Linked DNA regions of Homo sapiens. The protein of the gene in region 3 purifies or fractionates together with the protein of the main gene of each other region. This does not show direct contact. Each region holds a gene or a part of one and is shown on either strand. Other genes may lie near its edges.

Region 1 (5,108 bases), on a different chromosome or scaffold from region 3:
ACCATATCAATGTATAGCTTGTAGTATACCTGTATCTCTGAGTAAAGTATTAAAAACAAGTCATATGACTGTTTATTAATGCTGCCTCTTTTTGTATTGATTCCACCCATCCCTTCTACTCCTTTCCTCTTCTGTAAAGCAGTAGCTCATCAGATGGCATTTCAGAACCCTGAGAATATGAAAGACATCATGCACTAAGGTTTTCCTATCACATCTCAATGCCATTAGGTGAATAACACCGGCATGCATCTTCACTACTAAATGTCATACAAACAAATTTCAGTTGTTTCACATGCAACCTGTGTGGCTGCTGCAGTTTGTATCAACTATGTAACCACAGGGTGGGCAAAATAGCATTCAAAATGAGCTATAGTGCAAGATACCATCCATACGTAGAGTTAAGCCCTTTCATGCTTAGCAGTCACAATCAGGATATCTTTGGCCCACAGAAACCTATCCTGACTGGAATTTTCCTCTCCTGTGTGTCTCCTGGATATAGTAAGTTCCTAATAAACATCTCCTCTGATTGCTAGCCTTGACAAATTTCCAGGAGAACCAGGGCAAGGAGAAGACAGTGAGGCAGTGCCCGCTGCTCTTCAGATCACCAACAGAATAGAGTCAGAATATGATATTATTGAAACCTTCCAAGTTTGAATTAAGATAAAAACAACTTTTTCAAAATACCAAAAACCTTTTATTTAAGAAAGTGAAATCGCTCGATGTGCCCTCCCACTCTGGTTAGATGCTCAACAGACCACAGCAGACAATGCACCTCAACCAGGGCTAAGTGTGCAAGAAAACTGAAGTACACAAAAAGCAAATTATAGACTCAGGTACTGTCAGGCACAAAAGAAGAACCAACCCTTTCTAGGAGTCTTGTCTTTGCTTCCTTTATTCTTTCCTCGATTCTTGTAATTGAATGTTACAAAGTATATCAAGAGGAATAAACGTATGGGGCCCCTCTCTTCCAAACAAGAAAAGGTTAAGCTTTTAATTACAGGCCCTCAAACTATCATTTTGTGCAATTAGCAATTAACTATAATCGTTGATGAGCAAATGCAAAGCTGCGCTAGCAATTTCCCTTCTCCTCATCCCAGGCTGGGTTATTTCAGTCTTGTTCTATTACAGAGGACCAGCCACAACCGCGCGCACTCTCTTTCAAACATACACACTCTCTCACTTAAAGACACATTTAGTTTTCGGCAAAACGGCATCTCAGCGTGCGATTGAGACCGGCATCCCAAACCCCACTTTTGAGCAGCCCAAACGTTTGGAGCCCCTCCGCTTCATCACTTTCTGAGTGGATAGAGGAGGCCCGAAGAAGATGCTACCTACCAGCCTCTCTCAGGGGCGCAGGAGAGGGTGGTAGAGAGATGCTTGTTGCCCCTGGAAACTGCAAGTACCCCCCAGGTGCACGCCCCGTCAGTGGGGAGGCGGTGGCAACAGCAACGATAGTTGCATCAGCGCTAACTGCTGCTGCTGCTGCGTGTTCTGCCGGAGGCTGCCGGGAGGGTACAGTAATGACTGTAGGGAGCGCACAGCCGCTGCGGCGGCAGGTTCCCTGGATCAGGAAATTAGGACAGGCACCCGGGATTGGAGGCGAGGGCGGCGCGCGAGCCAACCAGCGGTCGCCCCGGGCCCCCGTGAGCCCCAGGCGAACGCGCGGAGCAGCCGGGCCCCTAGAGCGGTCCGGGTGGCGGCGGCGGCAGCCACGACCACGACCGCGGTCACTCACGCACGCTCACACTCGCACGCTCCCCGCGCGGGCACCCGGCTGCCCGGCGCGTGCAAGAGGAGCGCGTCGAGGGAAAGGAGGGCCGAAGCCGCCGCGCTCCCGCCCGCCCGCCGCGCCTCCCGTTGACCACGCCCCCTCCGGCCCCCTCCCCGCTGCTCACCCCGCTCTCCGGCCGCCGCCGGTGCGGGTGCTCCGCTACCGGCTCCTCTCCGTTCTGTGCTCTCTTCTGCTCTCGGCTCCCCACCCCCTCTCCCTTCCCTCCTCTCCCCTTGCCTCCCCTCCTCTGCAGCGCCTGCATTATTTTCTGCCCGCAGGCTCGGCTTGCACTGCTGCTGCAGCCCGGGGAGGTGGCTGGGTGGGTGGGGAGGAGACTGTGCAAGTTGTAGGGGAGGGGGTGCCCTCTTCTTCCCCGCTCCCTTCCCCCGCCAACTCCTTCCCCTCCTTCTCCCCCTTTCCCCTCCCCGCCCCCACCTTCTTCCTCCTTTCGGAAGGACTGGTAACTTGTCGTGCGGAGCGAACGGCGGCGGCGGCGGCGGCGGCGGCACCATCCAGGCGGGCACCATGGGCACGTCCGCGCTCTGGGCGCTCTGGCTGCTGCTCGCGCTGTGCTGGGCGCCCCGGGAGAGCGGCGCCACCGGAACCGGTGAGTGAGGACGCGCCCCTCCGCCGGCGGGCGGGACCCAGCCGGGGCACCGGGAGACCCCGAGGCGTAGGTCTCCGTTTGCCCACCCGCCTCCTAGGAGGCGCCTCTCGGTTCTCCTCGCCTTCCCTCCCTCCCCTCCGTGGTGGCGCCTCTGAGCTGTCAGCGCCGAGGCTAAAGGGAGCCGGGCTTGGGGAACAGCGGGGTTCGGGGTGCCCCGACGCCTCGCCTGAACTAGTCTTCTGCCCCTCACTCCGCCTCCCCCAGAGCCGCTGCTTCGCCTCGTTTCTCGCCCTCTTGACGGGCGCCGAGGTGCGTGGGCTTCTGAGCATTGAACAATGGTTCTGCCTCCTCTGCCAGGCGCAGTGTTGGGAAGGAGGCAGAGGGCCAAGACGTGTGCGGCAGCCTCGGGCGCACCCTCGAACCCCGGGGAGTGCGGGAGCGGACGGGGGGAGAAGGTGAGCGCCTCCGGGGACGCGGAGCGCCAGGGGCCGGCCGGGCTTCAGAGTCTTCCGGCGGCCGCGAGCTGGCGCACGTTCGGTGGGCGGCGGCCGGGAGGCTCCGCGGAGCCGAGGGCACCCGGACTGCGACTCCCCCGGCGCGGGGCCGCCTCTCCGGCGTGCGGGGTAGGGGAGCGGCGGGGCTTTACGCAGGACTCTGCTCTGGGCGCTTCTCCTCTCCCTTTTCCCCGCCTCGGGCGGCGTTTGGAAACCGCTCGGGTCTCCCGTGTAGCTGAACGCGGAGGGGGAGTGGAGGGGAGACTTAATCAGGTTAGTTTGCTGACCCTCCTTCCCGGTGACGTTTCCTCGAGAGGAATTGAGTCCTAGGCTAGTGACTGTAATTAGCCTTCATTCTACACAATAGCTCAAAGGAGCAGCGCGAGAGCGAGCGTGTGGCCCTGTCTTGTTGGGAAGGGCGGCGGTGACTACTGTCGGGTCCCCAGACTCTGCCGCGGGGGCCTGGGGGCCCCGCCTGGTCGTCAGCCACGTTCCCACTTGGGGCCTCGTAACTTTCCTGGACAGGCGACAGGAAGCCTTTCTGAGAGGACTCAGTCGGAATCCTAGCGCGTCCCCGAAGTGATCTTCAGATGTGACGCCGAGGGGCTTGCTTGCCAGCTGCAGGGAATTGGGACTGAAAGCCGCCCAGGCCCTTAACACCCGTTCCAGAGTCCCTGGCTCCCGTCGCCGGGTGGCTTCAGGGGCCCTGCCGGCCTGCAGTCACGTGCTCCTGAAGTGAGAGCGAACTTTAAAGCATGTGGTCAAGGAGCCTGTCGGGCAGCGCCTGGGGTTTTTACGTCTCCGAATGCCCCTGCCCTTTGGTTGCCACTGTCCGGAGCGTGTGAACTGGGACTGGCCTTTCCGCCCTCTGCGATTGGTTAGCGGTGCGATCACGTTTAGGTTGGTCACATGGTTCCGCGGACTCTTAAGTGGGCAGCATGGGCAGTGTTATTTTCAATGGAAAGTAGGAGACTCCACAGGCTCTTACGGGCTGTTCTCTCAAATGCCTTCCCCTGCCTGGACTCTTTGAAGAGGACGAATGTGTAGTGAACATGGAATCTGATGTGTAACAAGCCTGAGAGCCTAGAAAAGCTCTGCTTACAAGAGTTTCCAAACGCTAGCATTAATCATTAATAGATGAGTAATACTAACTTATTAAACGATTTCTCAGTATAGTGCCATGACTTGCATTATGCCTTTTGTAACATTTCAAAACGCTAAGGTATACCAGAAGGAGGGACAATTATCCAGGAAGGTGAGAGAAAAGTTTCGTTTTTGCTGCATGTCCCTTCCACTAGAGGTTAACTTTACCTTATAGAATGCTAGGAATGCACCTAAACTACTGACATGAGTTAGTCAAAGCCAGATGTTCACCTTGTATTGGGCAGGTGAGGATCCTTTTCACTTTGTCACATGTGAAATATTTGACATGCCATGAACAATGGAAAAACAAATTCTTCAAAGGAGAGGAAGCAGATTCTTCCAGAACTGGAGGAAATTTGGGCTGAGGCAGTTATTGACCCTAAACCAATCCCAACCGGCATCTGTCTTAAGTTCAAAGTCTCAGGGCATGTGGGCTGACTTTCTACCCTGGAGCTTCTACACATACCCCTTCTGTCCACTGGCACATGGTGCTGTTCCACAATACTCCTGGACAAGACAGGTGAACACTGAGACTCTGGCAAGGAACTTAAGGCTAACAAGAAGTTGGTATACCTGATTGCACAATTCCTGGGGGTTCTGGGACATTTTCCTTCAGCCTAAGTAGTCAAGATTAAGATCTGTGGTATGATATATTCTTTAAGGCCAGAGTCTAAAAGAACCAAGGTTTTTTGAGAGCTATTCATATATGGCTAGCAACTAGCCTAAGAATAGAAAGAAAATTCCCTCATTGTGAGAAGTGGGTTGGTGGTACTGGTGGTAGTAATAGACCTGGAGGTAGGAAACTGGTTGGCATGGAAAGTAAACTTGGCTCATCCAGATAGCACCAATGAAGGTATGACGATGATAGTACCCCTTATCAAAGACTGATCACTCATGTGAGCAGGGACTGCGTAAAGGAAGGTCACCAGCCAAGCCCTCCTTGGCAGTAACAGCTTCATGAAATCCAGTGTAGCTTTGTTCCCTGGATCACCCTCTTGCCCACTTTATGTGGCATTTACCTATAGTGCCTGTCCTGTGTCATTTTGATTGTTTGCTTTTATGGCCTGAGTCCCCAGATACTTAAAGCATGTAT
Region 2 (3,082 bases), on a different chromosome or scaffold from region 3:
TTTTAGCAAAATGGAAGTATAATGGGAATATATTTTTGAGGTGGTCTTAGTAGTAATTACCATTTGTTGAACACATTAATGCTATACTAGACAGATACAGTGGAGATAGCTTTCAAACCCGTATCTATTCCTAACTACTGCCTCTAATACTAATTACTAACTTGTTACTAATGCTAACTTTTAAAAATGTTTTTGAAAATTGCAATTTCTACAAATAAATGTCATAGTGCAAATAAATGTCAGGATTTAGAGAAGGAGCCTAAACTGAATTTGTGTTATTTCAGTAAAAGTTATGGAGTTATGGGTCTAGACGTGTTAATAAGTTAGACAGAACTTTGGCACTTTAGAACAAATGCATGAGTGGTATTTCAGTTCCTAAGTTACATAAAAAGTGTGAAAGAACACTGTGAGGTCCCAGCAACGCCAGACTATATTAAGGTAAGTAGAAAGTGTTTTTATAGGGCTTCAATACCCAGGTGGTGACAGAGCAGAAGAACCGGTTTTTTTTTTTTTTTTTTTACTACTAAGCTTTTACAAAAGAAGTATCTGTTTTATTGTATAGAACAAGTACAGCATTTTACTACATAGTATACAAGTTTTTAATGAGCATTTAAAAAAATAAGTAAATCTAGGCTATTTGAAAAATACAGTTGAGCCAGTGAGCACATTTTATAATTTGGAAGACACAAATCAAATGTGAAGGATTTGATTTTCTACATTTAAAATGAAGAACCAAAACTCTCTTCTTGATTTTCAGCTAAAGGCAGGAGACTACTTTCCAACTCCTTTTGCTTCTGGAGAAGGCCCTGAAATCACATTGATATATGTTTGTTAGTAAAATGTGCACACCTGACTTGCAATGTTGTGTTAAACTAGAATTATATTCACTTGGAAAACATATCGCTTAGGATAAAATTTTGTCATTCAAAAATTTTTTCAGAAATGCTTGTACTAGACCACCTCATTTGGATATATAGCTATCACATTTGTAAGATTCTGTTTTTAGCATAAAAATCAATAGGGATGAAAATTTTCTTAGAACTCAAGACTCCATAACTATGGGGGTAAATGAAGTCATCCCTTCTCCCCCAGTCCACCCCCAAGTGCTCTTAGATACTGAAGGAGTCTCCCTTAACATACAGTGTTTTTTTTTTGTTGTTGTTGTTTTGTTTTTTTTTGGAGATGGAGTCTCGCTCTGTCGCCCAAGCTGGAGTACAGTGGTGCAATCTCACTGCAAGCTCTGCCTCCCAGGTTCACACCATTCTCCTGCCTCAACCTCCCGAATGGCTGGGACTACAGGCACCCACCACCACGCCTGGCTAACTAACTAACTAACTTTTTGTATTTTTAGTAGAGACAGGGTTTCACTGTGTTAGCCAGGATGGTCTTGATCTCCTGACCTCATGATCTGCCTGCCTCAGCCTCCCAAAGTGCTGGGATTACAGGCTTGAGCCACTGCTCCTGGCCAACATCCAGTATTTTATCTTGACTGTCCTAACCTTACCTTAGATGCTAACAGAAGGGTCCTGCTGAAATAACACTGGGTGCTATATTGATGGGTAAATGTGTACATCCTATTCCTTCCTCTTTATCTCACAATTTTTGTCTCCACTAAGCAAGAAGTAAACTAACACTTCGTCACTCTAAAGAAATAACTTATGTAAAACTCTTAGTAACCCTGTTTGTCTTCAAATGAGTAAATAGACCAAAGTGGGGGGACAATTTTCTAGTTCTGTAGAGGGAAAAACATCTGAGTCAACATTTTGAAATGCAGAGGGTATTGGTACATGACGACATGGAAAAGGGCACTTTTAAACACAGCTTACTCTTCCTCAAGTACAGAGAGTATATAGTGAATCAAAACTAACTACAGCCATTCTTTTTAAAGCCCAAGGGATGGAGCAAAGGTGTAAGGATGTTACCTGTTTGTTTTAATCAGAGAGCAAAAAGAAGTCACAATAGTTTGGGAGAAAAAGTAGTATGGTGAGTAAGGTTATGCGTATAATTTCATACTGAATTTATTACTATTTGGGATGTACGTCAATGTTCTAACAAACACTGCCAACACGTCAATTTTTTAAAAAGCGTGGGCCACATTGCTAAGAATTTGTTAAAGCATAACTGTATTTTTTGTTTTAGGGCCTTATTGATGTTTTGCCGTTCCAATGTATGCATTTTTTTACTCAATAAACTTGTCTTAATTTTAGAACTGTCTGATGATTTCGTACTGGAAAGAACTACTCAAAGACGGCAGTGTAAAAGCAAGTCTTAGGAAAGTCCCATTTTATTTGTGTCTAACAAACATACAGGAACTGAAATATTTTTGTTAAATCCTGGGATGCACCGAAGTAACTTAAAACAAACCGTTCAACAGGTTCCCCCAACCGCCCACGCCACATAAAGAACAGACATATCTACACTTGAAAAAGCTCATACCTGTCTCAGTTCTGAAAGTCCCTTAAGGATTGCTTGCTGTCGATCCCTATTTTTCACCATGTTAGGATTAAGAAGTGGATCCCTGACACAGTCAGAATCAAATAGCTGTCGTTTTTGGCCACAGTCTAAAGCCAGATGAAAGTAACAAGTCAGTCAATTACATTAGTAAAATGACATAGCCCTGTGCTATATAATATTGTCAGGAGTCATTATAATAAGTATGTATCCTAGGAAAGTACTAAGAAAAATTTAAGACATATTCAAGAAACTTTATAGAACTAAGTGCAGGAATTACTAATTTGGAATTTAAAGTTGTTGACGGGGTTTACATGGGTCTTCAATTTTTACAGTTAGAATGCTTAATATTTACTTACCTTGTGAATTTTGGTACTGAGGGTCCTGGGTTGAAGGCCCAGACAATGGTGCATCGGGATCAAGGTAATAGATCTCATTTGTTCGAACATACGGAATAAAATGGGATGATTCAGAAATCCCAGATGATAATTCTGTTTGATTACTTCCTGAGATCAAATTCTCTCTCTCATAGCTACTGTTTTTTAGTGGTAAATGTAATGTATTTTGAGTTTGTTGGGTTCTGTTTTTCACTACTGGAACTGGTGATGATGGAGACCTATTTAAAAAAAAA
Region 3 (4,552 bases):
GGCCACCTATCTACAGTAGGCAAATTTAAGTGAAAAATTATTCATTTCTTCCCTAGTCTGATACTATACATTATAATGCAAAATCAGCTGAAGGGTCAGATAAGAGCTATCTGCAGGCTTAAAACAATAATATTAATAGGAATGCTAATAGTAGTAGTCATAGCTTCAGTTAATGATGCTCATAAGCATGTGCTAGGCATTTAATTAAACACTATATATATATATATATGGAGGATAATAATATATCCTTCAAGGGTGGTTGTGTATAAGTAATATCACATATATATAAAATATATATAGTATATTATATATAATCTATAAAATATATAATATATAGTATATTATATATTATCTATAAATATATATTGTATATATTATATATTATATATGATGTTAGTTACATTATATTCTTACATACATATGTGTGTATATATATTATATGCACATACTTATATGCTCAGCCATTGTTTCCAAAACATCAGCACCTTGCTCTGTTAGCTGGACATTCTAACATTATATATATATAATGTTACTTACACACAACCACCCTTGAAGGATATATTATTACCCTCCTTTTCACAGAAGAAAACATACTTGGTAAGTAATGTTACCAAGGTCACACATCTAGCAAGTGGGAAAGCTAGGGATTAAACCCAGTCCTGTGTGAACCTAAAGCTTGTCTTCATTGAAGTAAAGTTTTATCCATCTAAAGCTATCTTTTTTCCCCCTCCCCATATCAATTAAAAACAACATCAAAACACAGTAGAAATGAAAAACTAACATGAAACCCCTTTAGCTAATGTAAGATCATACAATCAAAAGCATCACATTATTACATTGTAAATAACACCACATCATCTTACAAATAACAAACATCTATCAATATACAGAGCTTTCTATATATAGAAGCCTTTTATGTGTATAATGTCTATAGAGAGAGATGAATCCTGCTATACACTGTTCTTTATGTTACTCAGTCCAAATAATTGTTTTTCTACCTAAGTGATGATCTGTGTTGATATTTCTCACTATATCCCAGTAATTAAAAGTTAGTCTTCTTACTAATGTAATATTTGTGACTTGAGTGACTGCTACCACTCTAAAATGACACTCAGGTTTAAAAACAACACAATAAGAACTAAGGTCTGTACCTGCCAAGATAATCAATGGCATTTACATTTGCTTTTTTCTTTAATAAAAATTCCACCATTTTCACTTTTCTTCGACTCACAGCAAGTAACAGTGGCTGATATTCATTCTGTAAAATAACAGCAACAATTTATAATCACAAAATTACATATTTATCAACTGAAATGAAAACCTTATGTAAGATCCTGTGAGCTTCAATATATACAATTGAAAGGTCGTAAGAGGTAGTCCCTTTCTTTTCCCTCCTCGGTGCTTTTCTATGTTCTGCTCCTTCCCCTGGAAACAACCTCCTCTGCCTCACCACAAGAACTCTGGTCATCTCCAAAACTCACTTCAAACATTTCCCAGTTCCAAGAATCTTTGCTTCTGTCCCAGCATTTAGCATGGCATGTTTCAAGGATTTAATTGTTTCCCACCTGAACCAAGAGCTTCTTGAGGGCAGCAGCTGTATTTTTTTCTCTATGTCCTCAAACTCTAAGACACAGTAATAAATGTTTCAGGTATTTTTATTAATGATCTAAATTATTATCTATAGAGCGGTGTTTCTTAAACTATTAATATATTCCAAAGGATATTTACTTTACCAGAATTTGAACATTATACCCCAAAAGAGAGACTCCATGATCACCCATGTTTGAAAAATGTTACAAAACTGTGCATTATGTGTCTAGTATTTGAGAAATCTTTTGAACTTCACCTAATCCCTATTTGTAAATACTTATTTTGGAGAATGTTAACATTTGAGAAATGAGAGTTTCAGGGATACAGTTGTGAGAGCTTACCAGTAAAGGTAGAGGTTTCCTCTGGGTGATACACACTTGCCTCATTCTCTTCTATCGATGGTGTGAGAATCTCAGGTGACAATGTCAGGAGCTCCTGAGCACCTGAGCACCTGACATTGTCATCTGAGATTCTGACACGATTGACAGTTCATTTGAAGCCTATCTCTTTTTAATTCGGAGAGCCGGGCTCTGAATTAATAGAGATAGGCTTCGAGTGAACTTTCACTGCTTATTATTAAATAGTCCATGGGTTTTCTCTAGTAATATTTTTATCTTAGCTGTCAGAAAGCTCTGTATGAAATGTTATTCTCAATTACAATCTTAGGACCCTGATGCAAATATTTATGTAATTATAATCTTAGGACCCTGGTACATAACTCCTTTAAAAATCTATTTGTATTCTAGTTTCCAATTCATTCTTACCTAACTTATTTTATTTTAGGTAAAATATCAATCAGAAATAAAAATACAATGGCTTATCAATTAAAGCTCTAATAATGACCTATATGAATTATTTATAGCATAATGAAAACCACTAAATTATTTGCATCATTTATTTATTTATTTATTTATTTATTTGAGATGGAGTCTCGCTCTGTCACCCAGGCTGGAGTGCAGTGGTGCCATCTCGGCTCACTGCAACCTCCGCCTCCCGGATTCAAGCACGAGAAATTCTCCTGCCTCAGCCTCCCGAGTAGCTGGGACTACAGGCGTGTGCCACCACACCCAGCTAATTTTTTGTATTTGTAGTAGAGAGGGGGTTTCACCGTGTTAGCCAGGATGGTCTCAATCTTCTGACCTCGTGATCTACCTGCCTCTGCCTCCCAAAGTGCTAGGATTACAGGCGTGAGCCACTGCGCTCGGCCAATTACTTGCATTTTTAGGAGGCAATGCTGAAGAGAAAAATATAATGTTGTCTGCAATATGCATAACCTATGCAACTATACCATGATTCACCTTAAAAAGCTTACATGCATTCTAATGGGAAGATGATTATTTATGGTATGTATAAATAGTTTATAAAACACCACCATCTAAATTCAAAAGTTCAACCCGATTACCAAAGGATTTATATAAAATATAGACTCTACATTTAAATAAATATAAAATGTCTTGAAAACCTTGAAATATTTACTAAAATATATTATAAAACAGGGCTTGTAAAGTCATCCCTACAGAGGCAAGGGAGATGACCTGAGGAAGTGAAGTACCTAGGTAGGCACAGTAGCAAAATGGAGACCACATGCCTCATAGAAAGGGGCAACCTCTGCACAGCATCCAAAACCTGAGATAGGCTCAAGGGACACCAGATTGGATTCTTGAAGAGAAGCTTGGAATCCAGATCTGTGCACGAGTCTCCTAAACCTTCCATGTTGAGACAATTTGTAGACGCAAACTAAACACATGTATGGGACACATTTGGACTATATACCTTGTATTTTTATATTTGCTATGGATATGTCTCCAAGCGATTGTATGTAAAGCAAGTATTTTCATGTAAAATACTTCCTTTCTTTAGTTTCAGATTTTTTTTCCAAAATAGGCCCAAGAATGCAATAAAAATTGTTACTAAGAGTCATAATACCCACTTTGAGCACTTTTACAACATTCATTCATTTATAATTTATGTTTAATTTTCCCAGATTGTTCACCAAATGGATAATTAGTTCATAGGACTGCTGCAACTAAATTATTAAAATAATATTAAATTATAATTCTAGTTTCTATATTGTAACCTAATTTTTTTTATTTTAGGTAAAATATAAATCAGAAATAAAAATACAATGGCTTATCAATTAAAGCTCTAATAATGACCTATATGTATTCTTTGTATTCTTACTAACTTCATGGTTTTCAGTGTTTAAAACTGCTATCCTGATTATGCCACAGTTCTATGTACTTAACTGACATACTGAGGCAGTCCATAATAGAGCTTCAGCTTTAAAAAAAGGTTTAGAATTTTTTGCTATTGTAATTGAGAGAACCCCGCTTTTAATAATGATGTATTGACCTAATCACCAGAATGATAACAAAGAGACTCAGAGTCCTGAAAGAGTCAGTCTCTACTTATTAAAAGAGTCCACAATAGCAAATTTCTAATGACCCTATGAATGGCAGTGAATAAGTGATGGTGGCAAAGAAAAGGTGTTATTCTTATGCTGATAGATACTGCAAATAATAGTCCTTTCCACTTCCCAACCACAGAGGTAGAGACAGGTAAAAGTCAGGCCAATATTATTGGAAAGGAGAAATTTAAAGGAAGCAGCACCTATCTCCAGCTCTTCTAGAGATTTTTTGTGTGTTTGAGATATGGGAATTTATATTACACTTATCTATTCAGTGGTTCTTAACCAGCAGCGTATCAGTGTCCCAAGAAATGTTTTATTGTTGTTGTTGTTGTTGTGTTGTTGCTGTTAGAGGCAGTGTCTTAATCTGTTGCTCTGGCTAGAGGCACCACCATGCCCAGCTTCAAGGAAATATTTTAAAACATACATGCCCAGTAATATTTAATAGTAAATATTAGATTTACTATATTAAAATCTTCAGGGGATATCCTAGACTTAGAGATTTGCTTTTAATTTCCCCAGGTTACTGCCATGCACAATTCTAACTGCGAACCA
Region 4 (4,552 bases), on a different chromosome or scaffold from region 3:
CTGAGGTTTGGAAACCTCTGCCTAGATTTCAGAGGATGTACGGAAATGCCTGGATGTCCAGGCAGAAGTTTGCTACAGGGGCGGAGCCCTCATAGAGAACCTCTGCTAAGAGAGATGTGTAAGGGAAATTTGGGTTCGGAGCCCACACAGTCTTCACTGGGGCACTGCCTAGTGGAGCTGTGAGAAGAGGGCCACCATCCTCCAGACCTAAGAATGGTAGATCCACCAAAAGCTTGCACTGTGAGCCCAGAAAAGCCACAGACACTCAATGCCAGCCCATGAAACCAGCCATAAGGGAGGCTGTACCCTGCAAAGCCACAAGGGCAGAGCTGCCCAAGGCTGTAGGAGCCCACCTCTTGCACCAGCATGACCTGGATGTGAGACATGGAGTCAAAGGAGATTATTTTGGAGCTTTAATATTTAATTATTGCTTCAGTGGATTTCAGACTTGCAAGGGGCCTGTAGCCCCTTTGTTTTGGCCAATTTCTCCCATTTGAAATGGGTGTATTTACCCAATGCTTGTACGTCTATTGTACCTAGGAGATAACTAACTTGCTTTGGATTTTACAGGCTCATAGGTGAAAGGGACTTGCTTTGTCACATATGAGACTTTGGACTTGGACTTTTGGTCTAATGCTGGAATGAGCTAAGACTTTGGGGGACTGTTGGAAAAGCATGATTGCATTTTGAAATGTGAGGACGTGAGATTTGGGAGGGCTTAAGAGCAGAATGATATGGTTTGGCTGTATCCCCACCCAAATCTCATCTTGAATTATAGTTCCCATAATCCCCATGTGTGGTGGGAGGAACCCGGAGGGAGGTAATTGAATCATGGGGGCAGTTTCCCCCATGCTGTTCTCATGATAGTAAGTTCTCAAGAGATCTGATGGCTTTATAAAGGGCTTCCTCCTTCACTCGGCTCCCATTCTTCTCCTTCCTGCCATCATGTGTAGAAAGACATGTTTGCTTCCCCTTCTGCCATGATTGTAAGTTTCCTGAGGCCTCCCCAGTCATGTGGAACTGTGAGTCAATTAAACTTCTTTCCTTTATTAATTACCCAGTCTCAGATAGTTCTTTATAGCAGCGTAAGAATGGACTAATACAGAAGGGAAATATCGCAGTAATCAGTAATCAGCAAAAATGAAAAGGCTGAAAAGCCACAGGCAGTGCTGAAGGAAAAATACCTGGGGAAAAAATGGGAAAGACCTGGCAGACAATATTGTGTATGTCCTGTTCACAGCTGTATCTGTATCCGGACTAGTTCTTGACCCACGTGATTATTAAATAAATGTTTACGGAATGAACAGCTAACAAAAGCAGAGAAACAAATACAGACAAAGGTTGAAAATGTGTATTTAGGAAAGGGGATGAGAAATAAAATCAGTATTTTTGAAAGATGGGAAAAGAGATGAGCTAGAAGCAAGCAGGGATGACATGCATGTTTTCTAGAGCTTATGTAAAAATATTTTTAAAAGATGGGGCAATCTATAATTGGAAGAAGAAACACGCAAAGCTACCCTTCATTAAATTAACTACTGGGTAAAAAATTAGAAATAGTAGATAGAATTTCAGATATAAAGATGAAAAAGTTATGGAGATCTGTTTCACAACAATGTAAACATCCTTCACAGCAATGGAGTGAATGCCTAAAAATGATTAAGATGGTGTATTAGGTCCGTTTGCATGCTGCTGATAAAGACAGACCCAAGATTGGGCAATTTACAAAAGAAAGAGGTTTAACGGACTTACAGTTCCACGTGGCTGAGGAAGCCTCACAATCACGGCAGAAGGCAAGGAGGGGCAAGTTACATCTTACATGGACGGCAGCAGGCAAAGAGAGAGAGCTTGTGCAGAGAAACTCCCATTTTTAAAGCAATCAGATCTCATGAGACTTATCCACTATCACGAGAACAGCATGGGAAAGACGCCCTCATGATGCAATTATCTCCCACTGGGTTCCTCCCACGACACATGGGAATTGTGGGAGTTACAATTCAACATGAGATTTGGGTGGGGACACAGCCAAACTATATCAGATAGTAAACTGTATGTGTTTTTTACTACAATGAATTTTTTTTTTAATTAGAGAGAAGGGCTTGGAATCAAAGAGAACGCTGATATATATATATATATATTTTAAAGCTCTTTAAGAGACACTTCACAAAGAATATAAAATAATGAAGGATGACTAAAAAGAAATAAATTAAGATCACACAGGACTGAATGTCACAAAGAAAACTGCAATAGGCATCTTTGAATTATGAAAGAAAAGCATTCCAGAAGGAAAACAAAGTAATAAGACTCATAAGTTTCAGGGGCAAGAAAAACTGTAAGAGAGCTAATGATCTGAATTTTTTTTTTTTTTTTTCCCCAGAAACAGTTTCACGCTTGTCGCCCAGGCTGGAGTGCAATGGTGTGATCTTGGCTCACTGCAACCTCTGTCTCCCGGGTTCAAGTGCTTCTCGTGCCTCAACCTCCTGAGTAGCTGGGATTACAGGCATGCACTACCATGCCTGACTAATTTTTGTACTTTTAGTACAGATGGGGTTTTACCATGTTGGCCAGGCTGGTCTGGAACTCCTGACCTCAGGTGATCCACCTGCCTCAACCTCCCAAAGTGCTGGGATTACAGGCGTGAGCCACCTTGCCCAGCCTAATGATCCAAATTTTATCTCCAAAGTAAAATTTCTCATACAAGGAAATCATGAAGGAGGAAAAACATTTAATTTTAACTTAAAGGAAACAGAGCCTTCATAGCAACTAAACCACTATACAATACGCTGGTAATGAAATAATATTTATGACATATCATCTGTGAAACAGATGTGACAAAATGGAAACAAACGTATTGAGTATGTTATCAGAAGCTTTTAAAATGCTGTTTTCATCACGTGACTTTCTATAACAGGAATAAGAAAAACCAGATAGTGTGCATGTTCTAAATAATATGTTAATTTCTGTACTATTCCTGTAAGAATGAAACTGATCTTGATGAGGAAAGATAGACATCTGAACATTGGTCCTGTTACCTCTTTGGGTCCAGTTGTTCCAGAAAGGAAGCTGAGCTCTGGCAGTGTGCGCGTAGAATACCCTCATGTCTTGAGGTGCAAGCAGGTCAACAAAGTGAGAAGACGCCAGGACATCTTTCTTACGATTCAGGATCAAAGCAGCCTGTTCAGAAATGTGCACTAACCTTCCAGACAGAAATGAAAATACTGCCACAAAGGTATCCTATGAAAAACATTTAAAATAAATGCAAATATTGAGATACTCACTAGCAATATTCCCTGAAAGGTAAATTTCTTCTGGATCTCTAACATGACCAGTATCTTAAAATACACAGGCACAACCTACAAATGCAACAAAACTCCTCAAATAATTTTCTCCAACATGCTTCTTAAATCTTCTCCTAAGACCTGCACTTCACCTACTGAAGGTTCAATTTCTATGCCAAAAAATATACTAGCTTATTCTATGCAGACTAAAATACGTATGGCACATAACTTCTCTGCAAACTGTGCCATACACCTGGGTGGACGGTGTTCTCGTCATCAACGCAGATTCTATGCTTTAAGACACACTGAAGATTCACCTTCTTCAAGAAGCTGTCCTTGACAAACCTCATTACATAAGCATCACTGCTCTAATTTTTTCCATTACACATAAATGAAACTTATTTATAATCAGCAGTTTGTGTTTGCTAGCATTGGCATACTTTCCTCTCTAGCTTTATTTTAAATATCTTAAAAGACAAATATTTTCTTAAGCTATTTTTAAAAATCTCCATAGCACCTCCTACAGTACTATGTACACACCAGTCCATAAAATAAGCACTGTTATAATACTAGGGATTGCGCACGTTCCACTATTACAAAATCTTTAAGTAACAATTATGTTACTTAAAATAAGTAATCTCCACCGTATCAACCAAACATGAAGATTACTCTGTCAAACAAGAAGAGAGATTAAAAAAGATATACTAAAGGTCTCTTCCAAAATTTTAGGAAAAATGACAGCATCTCAACTCACCTGTTCTATAACATCCAGTTGTTACAACTTGAAGTAGTAGGTATTGGAACTAAGAATGATATAAATAGAAATTAACAATTCGGAGATTAGAATAAGGTGCAGGAAATTACTCTGCAGTGTAATTTTTGTTTTCTCTTAATTCAAGAGAGCTTGGGAATGCTAAGGAGCTAGAAGCACCTCATAACCAAAGTCACTGAGCTGCACAGCACACAGAACGGGCTGCTTCTGCTTTTAGATGTTTTCTCTGGCAAGGGCGGAGAAGCTACACCATGCCTCTTTAGCAGTTCCTCCTTTGCTTCTCTCAAATTGTGGTTGCTGAAACGTTGTTATCCTTCTTAAAAGCCTACATCTAGAGCAGGCCCTTAGGAAAAGTCACCCAGGTTGATATGGCAAAATGCATGAATTCTTACTGTGTTTTTGGAAGTGTGTTCTGAAGCGATAGTGGCCAGCTCCTCAAGACTGTACATGCTCACATCTGCCTGAGGTGCTCCATTCTGACTGAGAATCTGGAAAAACTCACTGT
Region 5 (4,552 bases), about 91 Mb from region 3:
CAAATGTTCTTCCTCAGATAAAGAGGTTACACAATGACCAGGTTTGGATTTGCATCCAAGAAGGTGATGGAGCTTATTTTACTCCTTTGTCAACACAAAAATGAAAGCAAAGCTACTCTTCATATGTGATGAATTCCAGAAACAACTACGTTATCAAAACTCCTTGAAAAAGTTACTTCCCTTCACATAAATGAAGTACATTTATTCTTATTCTCCTAGCATATTTCGCAACATGGCTTACAATATGAATTTCAACAAAACCCAAGAGGATGTGTGTTCCATCTTGGGATGGAAGGTTGAATAATGAGTTTGAACTGATGTTCTGTCCCTAGCAGCGAGAGAGGCAAGAAAAAAATCATAATCCTGGTGAGCAGCAGACAGTGACAAGAAAAAATAAGAAGGAATATCAGAATAAAACCAGAACCTGAAGAGGATGCTCCAGCATAGATACATTGGTACCTCAGTCCCAACCTCTCTCATCAAGGCCATAGGAGCCCTACTGGCACAAACCATCTGCCAAGCAATGGAAATACTCACTCTTTCAAATGGGAGGTGGAAAAATGTGAGTTTACAGGAAAAATCATTTTTTGACCCATTTCCAGAGTGTGCCAAGTTTGAAACCCTAAATGAAACTTCTATAGAAACATCCTTTTTCATAGTGATGAGCTTGTGAATGATTCTAGTATTAGATATTAAGAAATGAACATTTTCATTGAGTTTATCCTACGTATTGAAGCACAATAAGCTTCCATAAAAAATTTTGCAACAAATTTCTTTTTTCAGTTCATGTTTATGTTATAAGTTAGATATTAATTTTTTTTGAAACAGAGTCTTTCTCTGTCACCCAGGCTGCAGTGGAGTGGTGCTATCATGGATCACTGCAGCCATGACCTCTGGGCTCATGCCATCCTCTTACCTCAGCCTCCTCAGTGGCTGAGACTACAGGTGTGTGCCAATATGCCTGGATAATTTTTTGTATTTTTTGTAGAGACAAGGTTTCACCATGTTGCCAGACTGGTCTTGAACCCCTGGGCTCAAATGATCTGCCTGCCTTGGCCTCCCAAAATGTTGGGATTACAGATATAAGCCACTGTGCTTGGCATAGATATTAAATATTTTTAAATGAAGAATAATAAATACACTTTAATAAAGAATATCAGTAGTACAGATGATTCAAACAGAAAAATATCTTTTCCTGAATATATTTTGCCTAGAAAAAATATTGTTTTAAATTCCACCTCCCTCCAATAAATTCCCTTTGCCAAAATCATGTAATAATGATATCATACATGGTATTGGGAAAAGGATTTCAAAACTGTGACAAGTCAGACATAAATATTTTAACTACAAAGACTTGAGTTTTGTCTGCAGAGAATACCACTCATTTTAATGTTTGAAATACAATTGCCTCACTCCCAGCGGGAACCCTTACCATGTAATATAAGAAACCAGGTTCAGTCTTGCTCACAGTTGAATTCCTACAATGAAGTTGAGCACTTCAAGGGGAGACTGGCATAGGTCATTAAATCTAACCCAGCAAATAGTAATTAATAGAAACAAAAGAAGAATATGCCACAAAGAGAAAAATTATATTATGTAATAAAACTTAAGACTAACCTGAGGGTTGAATTATGTTAGAAAACCCAGAGGAAAACAGCAACATAGAAAACAACTCTGATTTGAACTGACTAGGTAATTTTAAGTTTTAAATTAAACTGCTTAGCAGCCTTCATCTCTATCCATGTTTACTTTGAAATTACTGATCCCCAAGTATTATATGAAATATTGCAGAACTAGTGATACACAGATGTTTTATCACCATAAAATCTTGTTTCTAAGGATATTCAATATACTCACTGGAGGTGCTGATACTTGAGTTATTCTCAGTTGGTTTTCCAAATCTTGTACTTTATTTTTAAGTTCCATATTTTCTGTTTCTAAGTCTTGGATCTAAAAAGAAAATCATTATTGAATAACTTTCTGTTTTTTTTTTCTTGGAAAATATTGGCTACAGTTATGAGTAGGAATTTATATTACGTAAAACTTTAATGTACTTTGTTGTGCGTGGGGAGAAAATTGTTTGATAAAGCTTGGGAAATGCTGGAGGATTCTAGATCATTGAAAGACTTAAATTTATAATATATTTTTATGTGTGTGCAAATTTTATGTTCCTAATATCTCAACATTGTGTTTTCTTGTTGGACTGTGCAATCTATACCCATAATCTTGGAATATAACCACAAGACAGTGAAACTTGCTTATGATGATTTTGAAGAGTGGAGAAAGGCATAATTTAATTACCAAGGAATCTGATCTGCATGGAAAACCACTTACCCAGCATCTGCTGCTTCTGCTGCTCTGATCCCCATGAGAAGCATCAGGAAGTGAAGCAAAGTCACATGAGAACACTAAGTTCTTGTGGGAATTCAATATAAAATAGTTAAAAAAAAAAAACTGTGCAGGGGATCAGGAACGAAAAATTATGGGAACACGGTGAAAGCAGTTCCAATCAGTCAGTGTGGGTGAAATTTAATGGCAGGGCTTCTAAATTTGTTTGACGATATGCAAGTTTCCCTGTACTTACATCACACAAATGTAAAACAACAAGCTTAGTTTACTCACTCTTTTTTGTAACCCTGCGATCTGTTTTCTTGTTTCAACATCTTTTCCTCCTGATTCTAGAAATTTCCTGTATGCCAGGTCAAATGCTTGGCCAATTGTTAAAGTGATCTCTTCAGCCTGTGTAAAAATCAAACAAAGATTTGCATTTTAATAATATGTCAAACTGTTTTTGAATCGAGAAAACAACATTCATATAAGCACTTACTCCAAGACATTCACAAGAGGTACTTCAAAAGGGCAACAGTTGGGAGTAGAGATGTATTAAATGAGCAAGGTAGTAGGCTAATGTAATAACTCAACACCTACCCAGGCACAACATTGAAAAAACAAGCGGACTTGGGGGTGGGTATTACTGAATAGCTGTTGAAGTGGGAAAGTTGGAAGCAAGAGTTCTTTATGTCAAACTTCTCATCTCTTTTATTGTATTGTTTTTTCCTACTTGTTTTTCTCCCTTTCTCAAATATTTAGTGCCTATGAAATGAAAGCAGAGTGCCAAATGTAGTTTCTCTCCTTGCTTTGCTATTTATTTCCTTTTCCTTGTGAGGAGGGTTTGTTAAACCCTAAGCAGGTAACTTGAATGAGGCTGGCCAGGTGGTGTCTCTGGAAAACTTGAGGTATGCCCTCTAAATGGAACACCTGCTACTCTGTCCCAGTTAATTGTTGCCTGGTGGAAGTGAGCAATTCCAATCTGAAACTGTCAGATCTTATGTATGAAAGATGAGGCCAGAAGTCTGAAATTTTATATGAGAGCTCCCAATTTTAAGCGATGGTAAACAGTTTGTATTTTGGTAAAACACAGTGCCAGTGATCAAAATATATATGTCATCTGAATTTGGGCTTGTAAACAACTTACAATCTCAGATCTATTGATTTGAAACTGCCACAAATATATCTTACATCCACAAGCTCATTTCTTCTCCATTCATATCTCCACTGAATTCATAATGTCTTGCACATAGTAAAGACTAAAGATTTATTTACTTAATCAACATTATAAAGAATTTTGGTAAAGGCATCAATAAGATTTAATGTTGTCACAATTATGTCATATTTAGTAAGACCTCCAGATAACAAGAAGACTAGTAGTAATATATATTGAAAATGCTATGCTTTAACTCTACTACAAATTCTAATAATTTATTATCTACTGTGATCAACATAAAATGAAAACATGCTTTGTTAATCATCTTATATCATTTAATAGAATTTTTATAGTTCATTATTTAAGGAGGGTTTTAGACAAAAATATAGTATTTAACCTAGTTAACTAAAAAATGCAAAATATGTACATAATATTTTAAAGGAAGACTGTTTTACAAAAGAAAAGAAAAAAGACAAGAAAGTAAACAACGAGCTATAATAAAAACTACCAAATAAATGAAAATGACAGATACCAATGTATGCATGTTCATTGACTTAAACTAATTGGTTGTGTTAGATATTAAGATTATTTGTAATATTAAAGAAGTGGTTTTGATAGATTGTGGGATTATGAATAATTTGTTTTCTGTTTCTCATTTCAAAACTTTGGGTAATAGGTTTCTGTTTATTTTACAATAAAAAGACGTTTTTCTTCTTCTTTTTAAAAATTTCTTCCAAAACAAAATGGGATACATGTGCAGAATGTGCAGGTTAGTTATACAGTATACGTGTGCCATGGTGGTTTGCTGCACCTATTGACCCATCCTCTAAGTTCCCTCCCCTCGCCTCCCACCCCCTAATGGGTCCTGGTGTGTGTTGTTCCCCTCTCTGTGTCCATGTGTTCTCATTGTTCAACTCCCACTTCTGGGTGAGAACATGTGGTGTTTGGTTTTCTGTTCCTGTGTTAGTTTGCTAAGGATGATAGCTTCCAGCTTCATCCATGTCCCTGCAAAGGACATTATCTCATTCCTTTTTATGGCTGCAGAGTATTCCATGGGATATGGGATAT
Region 6 (4,552 bases), on a different chromosome or scaffold from region 3:
TCATCCTATACAAACCCCAAACAATGATGAAGGAACATCCGCTGCAGCAGAAATCAGCAAATTACAGCCTACAGGCTCAGGCTGAATGTGGCCTGCTGCCTGCCTATTTTTGTAAACAAAGTTTTATTAGAATATGGCTATGCCAATTTGTTTACATATTGTCTATGGCTTTTATTTTCATGCTCTAATGGCAGAGGTGAAAAGCTACAACAGAGCCCATCTAGCCTGGAAAGCCTGCTAACCCTTTACATAAAGTTTGCTAACCCCTGCTGTAGCACATCTCAATTAAATAGAGAACCAAGTTTTGCTTGAATACTTTTAGTAACTAAGCACTCACTAGTCTACAGAGGTTCACTTCAATTTCAGGACAGCTTTAGTTATTAGAAAATATTTGCAGATAATTTGGATTATATTGGTTTATCTATTATAATTTCAACACACTGGTCCTCATTACGCACTTGAGAATTACAATGACTAAATCTATCCTACTTTCTACATTTCAGTCTTGGCCAAGAAATTTTTTTTCCAGGATAAATTTTCCCTCTCATTTAAGACTTCGTGTGTCTGTGCTCACGTACAAGCACGCACATATTTTAAGATTAGTGGTAAAGATGTTACTGAGGAACTGCTGTAATAAGATTAATGAACAAGGAAAATGAAAAAGATCACGATCATAGAGTGGAATGTTAGCATCTGCGATTTTGGAGGTCAGAATTGAGGATATAAGGAGTAGGTGGCTAAAGTAAAATTAAGGAAATGGTCATGAGACACGAAGAAGTTAGAAAAATGAAGGCCAGCTGTAGGACTGGTAATACACAGGGGTGTAGAAGCCAACAAAAACAATGACAGTTGTTGGGATCTGGTTGATCCAGAGCCTTGTATCTTCAAGGAATGATGGGGAGTTACCAGGACATTCAGAGATGAGAGTAAGTCAGAAGTATCAAAAGAGCAGGCCTTTTGCAAGAAAGAGGAAGAAATGGTCTGGACACAGAACAGAGAGCACACAGCCATATGGTAAGTGAGATGTGAGACAAAAACAATCCTCCCTTGAAGGGACTGCTGGACAAGCAGTATCCACAAGAAACTGCCTAGATTCTATACTTTTTCTTTCTACGTGTACTATTCAATGGTTTTTAGTTGCTCAGTGGTTCACAGCTGTGCAACCATCACCACAATCCAATTTTAGAATATTTTCGTCTTCTAAAAAGAAAACTCACACCCATTAGCAATCACTCCCCACTCCCCACTGCTCCCAGCCCCTGGCAACCACTAATCTACTTTCCACCTCTATGGATTTGCCTATTCTGACCATTTTATCTAAATGGGATCATAAAATATATGGGCTTTTGTGGTGAGCTTCTTTCACTTAGCACGTTGTAAATGTTCACTTATGTTGTAACATGTACTAGTACTTCATTACTGTTTATTGTTGATTAACATTCCATTGTATGGATGTACCACATTTTCTTTATCCATTCATCGGTTGGATATTTTGTTATTTCCACTTTTTGGCAATTATGAAAATGCTGCTATGAATATTTATGTACAAATATTTGTGTGGATGTATGTTTTCAATTCTCTTAACTACAAACCTAGGAGTGGAATTATTGGATCATATAAAGCTACGTTTAACCTTTTGAAGAACTCCCAGACTCTTATCCAAAATGACTGCACCATTTTACATTCCCACTAGCAGCATATGAAGGTTCTAAAATTCTCCACATCCTTGCCAACACTTGTTATTGTCTCTTGAATTACAGCCGTCCTAGTGGGTGTGAAGTAGTATCTAATTATGGTTTTGCTTTGCATTTCTTTAATGATCCATATGGTTTTCAGTTCCCTTACAATCCTATTAGTGTACAATTTTCAAATAGAAAAAAAAGAGGAGATGCTGGTTTGATACAATCTATGACTCAACCTATCAGGATCCTTATCATCTAGCATTTGTTATCTACATCTACTACTTAAGAGATCTTACTATGACAATATTTACCTTTCTCACTTTTATTTTCTCATGAGTATATAAGGAGTTTTCCAGAGACTGTATGACATGTAATAATGAAATACATTGAATGCAAAAGCAGACATAAGAATCTAGTCTTCTGTTAAGCCAATCATTAGATTTGTAAAAACTCTAACACAGTGCTACTCTTCCCACTGTAGTTATTTTGTTTCAGAAAATACATATTTTTCATAAAAGTACATTTATATTCACATGAGTTTATCAGTTATTTTATTTCATTTTATTTTTTTTGAGACAGAGTCTCGCTCTGTCACCCAGGCCGGAGTGCAGTGGCATGATATCTGCTCACTGCAAGCTCCGCCTCCTGGGTTCACACCATTCTCCTGCCTCAGCCTCCCAAGTAGCTGGGACTACAGGCGCCCACCACCACACCCGGCTAATTTTTTGTATTTTTAGTAGAGACAGGGTTTCACCATGTTAGCCAAGATGGTCTCGATCTCCTGACCTCGTGATCTGCCCGCCTTGGCCTCCCAAAGTGCTGGGATTACAGGCGTGAGCCATCGTGCCCAGCCCTCAGTTATTTTTAATAAATTAATAAACATTTTTAAAGTTTCTTGGCTTTACTTCCTAATATAGTAAATAGAGATAGATATAATCAACATAAACAAAAGCTCTTTAGGGGCACTGATAATTAAGAGTATAAAAGGCCAAATGTTTGAGAACCACTGAATTAATAAAGCCTTTACTATATTTACTACAAGTCACTGAAAAGAAATGGTAAGGAAACTATGGCCATGAACTGCAGCTATAGCTCTTTAGTATCCTACTTGATCATTCCTTCCGAAAAGCCACCAGGAATGATGACTCAGTATGTTACAAATTCATGTACGTTGTCTAGGCTATATTTTTCTATTTTTATCAATGAGTATGACCACAGGAAACTGTTAAGTGCTTGGGACAGCACTGCGCTAGTTCAGAGATCAGCATACAGTTTTCGGTAAAGGACCAGATAGTAAACATTTTAAACTTTGCAGGCCAAGTGGTCTCTAATACAACTAATCAACTCTGCTCTTATAATGCAAAAGCAGCCATAGACATTAAATGAATGAGTGTGTCAGTGTTCCAGTAAGTCTTTATTTACACAATCAGGCTAAGAACTAGATTTGGCCCATAGCACCAGTCTATCGGCAATCTAGAAACACTATCGAAGATAGAAAATAATTTAGCCTGACTTACTGAACGTATGACTGCTACTGATCACCACTTTATAAATGATTTTAAAAACCTTTAAATAAACTATTCTACTAAATATCATACACATTTAATAAAAGAAAACATTTAATATGATCATCAACCTTCGGAAATGCATTATGAACAAAAAAGCAATATTGTACTTTAGTGGAAAAGTTACCTCTGTATTAACTTTTCGGGCTAACTCCGGAATCTGCCAGTGATTTGAAGATGCAGCAGGATTCTGGTTAATACACTCTGACTTTCTCTTAGATTGCCACTGTTTCTGGTTACTCTCTGGAACCTCTGGTTCTTGATACTCTTTAGTTTCTGAAATTGTATTTGTTGTCATTAAAAAGCAAGAATATTTGATCATAATAAACTAAGCCTAAACAACAGAACATATTACAAACTATATGAGTATTTAGTTCTTAAAAACAATCAAGGAGGGAGAGAAACTAAAAGCTTTAAGCCAGCTGCTTAACAATTTGCTTTTAGCAAGTCAATTTCACAAAGTTGCACTATAGTCATCTTCCTACATTGTTACTAAGAACTTTGTCAGAGACCTTGCCACATTTAAATGCTTCTTTACCAATAAATAAGTAAAAATTTAAAAACATATAGATGTTATAAAGTCTTACTAATAGAGAAGCTAATTCATCACTTTTCATAGACCGAGTATCCAACCCTCAAAATGCAATTTAGAACATTTTTTTTTCCTTTTTGCTTTCAGCCTGGAAGCATACTTTGAAACCCTTAGTTTCTCCCTTTCCCACCAGGCATGTCCATGAACAGTGTTCACTTATCTAATTACGTACTTGCTTAGAAATTTCAGGGGCCAGTTTTGAAACAAACCAAGCAGAGATGGAGTTGCAGACTCCTCTTGCATGGGGGGAGTTTCGAACAGTTAGCCTAGCATTACCCAGCTGAAGTCAAGATGACACAAACCATACCTCCAGATGGGCAATTACTCAATATAACTATCACAACAAGACATTCAGACCTGCACCACTCCTGCATCTCTTCCACACCTTTTCCTTTTTAAACCCCTTCACTCAGCCCAAAAAGTTGAAATGGTCTTTTGAGGGCATGAGCCTGGCCAGTCCCCAGCTGCTAGCATTTGATTAATAAAACTGTTTTCCTTCCACCACACCTCACTTCTCATGTTTTTGGCCTCTGTGTTGTGAAGAGCCGGACTTGAGTCAGTTACAAATGTGGTGCCCTGTGTGAGGAACTGTGTGTTTTGAGGGGCTCAGCCTGTACGCCTGGTTTCCAACAAGTGGAGCAATTGGCTGTGGGAGCAGGCCAAGGCTCACCCACTCAGGCTACCAGGCCAACGCAGGAGCCACTTGCAAATGC
Region 7 (4,552 bases), on a different chromosome or scaffold from region 3:
AGGCAGGTGAACTGCATGAACCTGGGAGGCGGAGGTTGCAGTGAGCTGAGATTGTGCCACTGTAAGCCAGCTTGGGCGACAGAGTGAGACTCAAAAAAAAAGGAAGAAAATCTGTATTAATTCAATCTTTCTTCTTCCACTGAATGTACATGTATTTAAATGAACTTTTCATTCTAGGTCACAACTGGCTACAGTAAACTTCTTCAAGGAGACTCAGTCAAAAGCACCTGTTTCATAAAGAAGCACTTTAGGATTAACTTGAAAGTAAGGATTCATTATCTTTTATTCTAAACATTCTAAAGTTATGTTGAGAAGCATACACATTAAAGCAGAACTATTTACTTGATAGCAGTAATTTATACTTTTGGAGCTAACACCAAAATGTCATCCTACATTTTACGCTGACCTATGTTTCCACATAGTAAGAATATCTACCATTGAAGCAATATAGAAAAATACTAAAAAATGACCTATCCCAATAAGAAATTATTTCTTTACCTTTGGCCAATACGAGGCTGCCAGCATATATCCACCTTGTAAGATATAAGCAGACTCTGGTGTCCCATTGTTCATCTGAAAACTATCCTGAGTCTCATCCTGGGTAGTGCTCAGTGACGCGACGCTTTCTTCATCATAGGCTTTCATGTGAGTAGTACTTTCTGCTAAAAACAATTATAATCATTTTTTAAAAAGACTACATAAAATAGTTTTATATATAAGGATTTTACATAATTATTCAGAAACACCTGAAAATGAAAATGTTAGAAGTAAAAACAAATGATAAAAAAAGAGAAAAAATCACCTAGAATATAAAAAAAGCACCTATCATTATTATTAAGAGACAGGGTCTTGCTGTGTTGCACAGCCTGGACAGAACTCCTGGGCTCAAGCAATACTCCTGCCTCAGCTTCTCAAGTAGCTCAGATTACAGGTGTGCACTACGCCTGACTTCATTACTCACTATTTTTAAAATGATTCCTGATTGGTAGACTTCATCTGGATTGGCAGAACTATAAATACCTGATGAGGATACCATAATTCTCTTGATTAGGTGACTCTTGTAACTCTTAGAATTGGGCATGTTTCTTGCGGCAACCCCGAAAGTTATGCCTATGGAGTTGTTACAAGAGACCCCAGCTCCTGCTCATGTTTAATTGGACTCATTTTCTTGCCCCTGAACTGGTGGACTGCTGCAAGGGTTCCTGCAGAAGGGGACCACCAAACACTGTTCTGCTGACAAGCATTTGTCATGGCTGACAAATAAATGGCTTATGATATTCTCATTAGCTTAAGACTCTTGGTGACTGCTATATAATATTATCTTTTACTTGTTCACTAATCAACTTGTTCCTGGGAAAAATATTCAATTTAAGACAATCACAAATAAACTACTGTGTAAAATTTCTAATTCAATTGCCTGATTAATCTACTGTGTAATGCCTTGAATATTAAACAGGGAATTTGTATCAGTAACTAGTTTTCTTCCCAATAGTGCTTTCCTAAGAACATTTGTATATATAAAACTTAAGCAAACAGGCCAGGTGTGGTGGCTTATGCCTGTAATCCCAGCACTTTGGGAGGCTAAGGCGGGCGGATCACCTAAGGTCAGGAGTTCGAGACCAGCCTGGCCAACATGGTGAAACCCTGTCTCTACAAAAATACAAAAATTAGCTGGACATGGTGGTGGGTGCCTGTAATCCTAGCTACTCAGGAGGCTGAGGCAGGAGAATCGCTTGAACCTGGGAGACAGAGGTTGCAGTGAGCTGAGATCGTGCCATTGCACTCCAGCCTGGGCGACAGAGCGAGACTCCGTTTCAAAAAAACACTGTAAGCAAACAATTTTAAACATCCTTAAGTTACCTGAAACGAGTTCTTTTCATTTTCACTTGAAAAGTTATATTAGGCCAGGCCTGGTGGCTCATGCCTGTAATCTCAGCACTTTGGGAGGCTGAGGCGGGTAGATCACCTGAGGTCGGGAGTTTGAGACCAGCCTGACCAACATGGAGAAACCCCGTCTCTACTAAAAATACAAAATTAGCCAGGCATGGTGGCACATGCCTGTAATCCCAGCTACTTGGGAGGCTGAGGCAGGAGAGTCGCTTGAACCCAGGAGGTGGAGGTTGAAGTGAGCTGAGATTGCGCCATTGCACTCCAGCCTGGGCAACAAGAGCAAAACTCCATCTCAAAAAAAAAAAAAAAAAAGAAAAGAAAAGAAAAGAAAAGAAAAGAAAAGTTATGTTAAAAAAGTAGAATTATTTTATGCATAGTACCTCGTTTTTGGGCTTCTTCTTCATCACTGTCACTTTCTTCTGATGAAGATGAAGAGGAGGAGGAGGAGGAAGAGGTGGAGGAAGAGGATGAAGAAGATGCTGAAGAACAAGATGAAGATGAAGAAGAACTAGAGCCTGATCGAGAGTGGGAGCAAGAAGAGGATGATGAGGAAGAAGATGATCTGGAAGAACAAGATGATCTCTCAGAATCTGAGTCAGAATCAGAACTAGATTCTGATCCCCTTTTGTGGACTCTTGGTTTCTTAGAAGCTGGGTTTGGAGTTAGGGGTTCTGTTCTGGCTGCAACCATGCGTCTGTCTGTTTCACATTTTCCACCAGATTTCTGGTCTCCAGTAGCCTGTGGTAAAACACCATTCTTTGGACTTACAGGCTCAGATTTTATTAGTGTCCTGGTTTCCACAGAAGACATAGATTCTTCTTCAGAAGACTGAGGCTCCTCTTTAAGGTTTTCACTTTTAACTTTCATCTCCTCTAGAATAATACCTTTAGCATCTAGGAGCCTAGGTAGAGAGGTAAGAGGAGAAGCAGAAAGTGCTACTTGATATTGCTGTAGAAGTGGGGTAGAAGTCCTTGAATGAGCCATCTTACTTTGACTGTAGTTCCTCTGAGCTGCCATAAATGAGAGTTCAGGATCACGAAGAATGTGATAGTCTGTTCGGCTCACCCCGTGTTTGGCAGCACCAATAAGCAAATCCCTATCATGAGGGCCACATTCCCACCAGACTGGTAAATCTGGATTTGGATGGCAAAGCTTCAAGCGTTCAAACAACTGTGGATGTCGAAGGGCCTGTTCCCGTACTTTCCTTAGAAGTTCAATGCGATACAAAGTCCTAGAAGCACGTTCTTCTGTGATGGGCTGGATAAAAATATTTGGATCCACCAATTCTACATATTGAAACAAGGACAAAAATATTAATCTCAAAAATCCTTTATTTATAAATAAATCATTATAAATACATCTTTATATATTTATAACAATACCATTTCTAAAATGTGCCTCCATGCAATATCACTGTATAGTTTCCAGAATTTCTTTTCAGTGAGGAGAAATTCAGTGAGGATTTTGAAATTTTGAAATTTCAGTAAAAGCTTTAAAAAGGAGAAAGTTTTAAAAGTAAGTACTAAAAATCATGTAACATAAAATACTGGATGTTAATGTAAAACATAAGATTATTTTGGAAGTACATTAATAGAACTGGGAATTTTAAGAAATTCCCTATGAGCGATGCATTTAATAACATTTGTCTTAATAACACAAACACTTGCTCAAACTCACTTATAAATTAGAAGTGTTCAGGGTTGTCCAATCTTTTGGCTTCCCTGGGCTGCATTGTAAGAGGAATTGTATTGGGCCACATATAAAATACACTAACACTAACGATAGCTGATGAGCTTAAAAAAATTGCAAAAAAAAAAAAAAAACTCATAATATTTTAAGAAAGTTTACGAATTTGTGATGGGCCGCATTCAAAGCTGTCCTGGGCCACAGGTTGGACAAGCTTGTGTTAAGTGATACTCCATAAACAAATGTAAGCTGGCATATCTCAAACTGCAAAAGGTAAGAGGACATTGGAGTGAACTCACAGGGGCAACAAGGGCTTTCTCAAATTTCTAGGGAAACACAGCCACATCTTTCAAACACTGCACAAATTACTAGCTTGAGATAGTTCAGTTTCAACATGAACTCATGCTACCTCATACCTCTGATAAGGTTATGCCTTTGCAAAAGTGGGTTACTGACACTTGGGAAGTACTCAAGAAACATGGGCTTGCTGAAACAATGCAGGGACCAACATAAGCAGCTCCTAATGCCAAATATGGAACAATCTGAGCAATAAATAAAGACAATATTGGATTGTAACCTATAGAATAAATACCCATGAATCCATACTGATATGAATAAATAACTGATTAAATAGATGAGAGAGAATGAAACATCCTTTCTTACAGCAGAATTCCACAGAAAAAACTGTTGTAGACAAGATTTAGTATCTGGCAGATACTAAAAATCAATGGGTGAAAGTTTGAGAAGAAACAAGATTTGTGAAGCTTAAGATATTTGTTAATTACAGTAATTTTACACTGGCCAAATGCAGCATAAACTACCTTAACCACACAATTAAAGTCAACATCATCAGTAATAAGACATACTGACATCTCCAATCCCTTGATATTACATTCTGAGAACACATCATTTCTGTGGCACTCTTGCCAAAAATGCATGACCTCAATCCAGTCATGTAACAACATAAGACAAGCTC

Evidence for each region.
Region 1: the proteins of ANKRD36B (region 3) and VLDLR purify together in Homo sapiens (affinity purification with mass spectrometry; one large-scale study listed by BioGRID and IntAct). This does not show direct contact.
Region 2: the proteins of ANKRD36B (region 3) and CCDC66 purify together in Homo sapiens (affinity purification with mass spectrometry; one large-scale study listed by BioGRID and IntAct). This does not show direct contact.
Region 4: the proteins of ANKRD36B (region 3) and PER3 purify together in Homo sapiens (co-immunoprecipitation; one large-scale study listed by IntAct). This does not show direct contact.
Region 5: the proteins of ANKRD36B (region 3) and GULP1 purify together in Homo sapiens (affinity purification with mass spectrometry; one large-scale study listed by BioGRID and IntAct). This does not show direct contact.
Region 6: the proteins of ANKRD36B (region 3) and TTK purify together in Homo sapiens (affinity purification with mass spectrometry; one large-scale study listed by BioGRID and IntAct). This does not show direct contact.
Region 7: the proteins of ANKRD36B (region 3) and CHD9 purify together in Homo sapiens (affinity purification with mass spectrometry; one large-scale study listed by BioGRID and IntAct). This does not show direct contact.

Annotation. Positions count from the first base shown.
Region 1 is NC_000009.12:2,619,894-2,625,001, forward strand, and holds the start of VLDLR (very low-density lipoprotein receptor isoform a precursor), read left to right. Parts: upstream 1-1,893; 5' UTR 1,894-2,296; coding exon 2,297-2,378; exon of another isoform or gene 2,379-2,480; intron 2,481-5,108. UniProt on the Homo sapiens protein: Multifunctional cell surface receptor that binds VLDL and transports it into cells by endocytosis and therefore plays an important role in energy metabolism.
Region 2 is NC_000003.12:56,619,256-56,622,337, reverse strand, and holds the end of CCDC66 (coiled-coil domain-containing protein 66), read right to left. Parts: intron 3,068-3,082; coding exon 2,811-3,067; intron 2,562-2,810; coding exon 2,437-2,561; intron 2,207-2,436; exon of another isoform or gene 807-2,206; coding exon 720-806; 3' UTR 501-719; downstream 1-500. UniProt on the Homo sapiens protein: Microtubule-binding protein required for ciliogenesis. May function in ciliogenesis by mediating the transport of proteins like BBS4 to the cilium, but also through the organization of the centriolar satellites.
Region 3 is NC_000002.12:97,579,311-97,583,862, forward strand, and holds part of ANKRD36B (ankyrin repeat domain-containing protein 36B), read right to left. Parts: intron 1,259-4,552; coding exon 1,152-1,258; intron 1-1,151.
Region 4 is NC_000001.11:7,786,724-7,791,275, reverse strand, and holds part of PER3 (period circadian protein homolog 3), read right to left. Parts: coding exon 4,440-4,552; intron 4,079-4,439; exon of another isoform or gene 4,030-4,078; intron 3,232-4,029; coding exon 3,030-3,231; intron 1-3,029. UniProt on the Homo sapiens protein: Originally described as a core component of the circadian clock.
Region 5 is NC_000002.12:188,567,426-188,571,977, reverse strand, and holds part of GULP1 (PTB domain-containing engulfment adapter protein 1), read right to left. Parts: intron 2,740-4,552; coding exon 2,623-2,739; intron 2,359-2,622; coding exon of another isoform or gene 2,335-2,358; intron 1,951-2,334; coding exon 1,858-1,950; intron 1-1,857. UniProt on the Homo sapiens protein: May function as an adapter protein. Required for efficient phagocytosis of apoptotic cells. Modulates cellular glycosphingolipid and cholesterol transport. May play a role in the internalization and endosomal trafficking of various LRP1 ligands, such as PSAP.
Region 6 is NC_000006.12:80,021,295-80,025,846, reverse strand, and holds part of TTK (dual specificity protein kinase TTK), read right to left. Parts: intron 3,524-4,552; coding exon 3,375-3,523; intron 1-3,374.
Region 7 is NC_000016.10:53,302,344-53,306,895, reverse strand, and holds part of CHD9 (chromodomain-helicase-DNA-binding protein 9), read right to left. Parts: intron 3,177-4,552; coding exon 2,271-3,176; intron 663-2,270; coding exon of another isoform or gene 660-662; coding exon 499-659; intron 1-498. UniProt on the Homo sapiens protein: Probable ATP-dependent chromatin-remodeling factor. Acts as a transcriptional coactivator for PPARA and possibly other nuclear receptors. Has DNA-dependent ATPase activity and binds to A/T-rich DNA.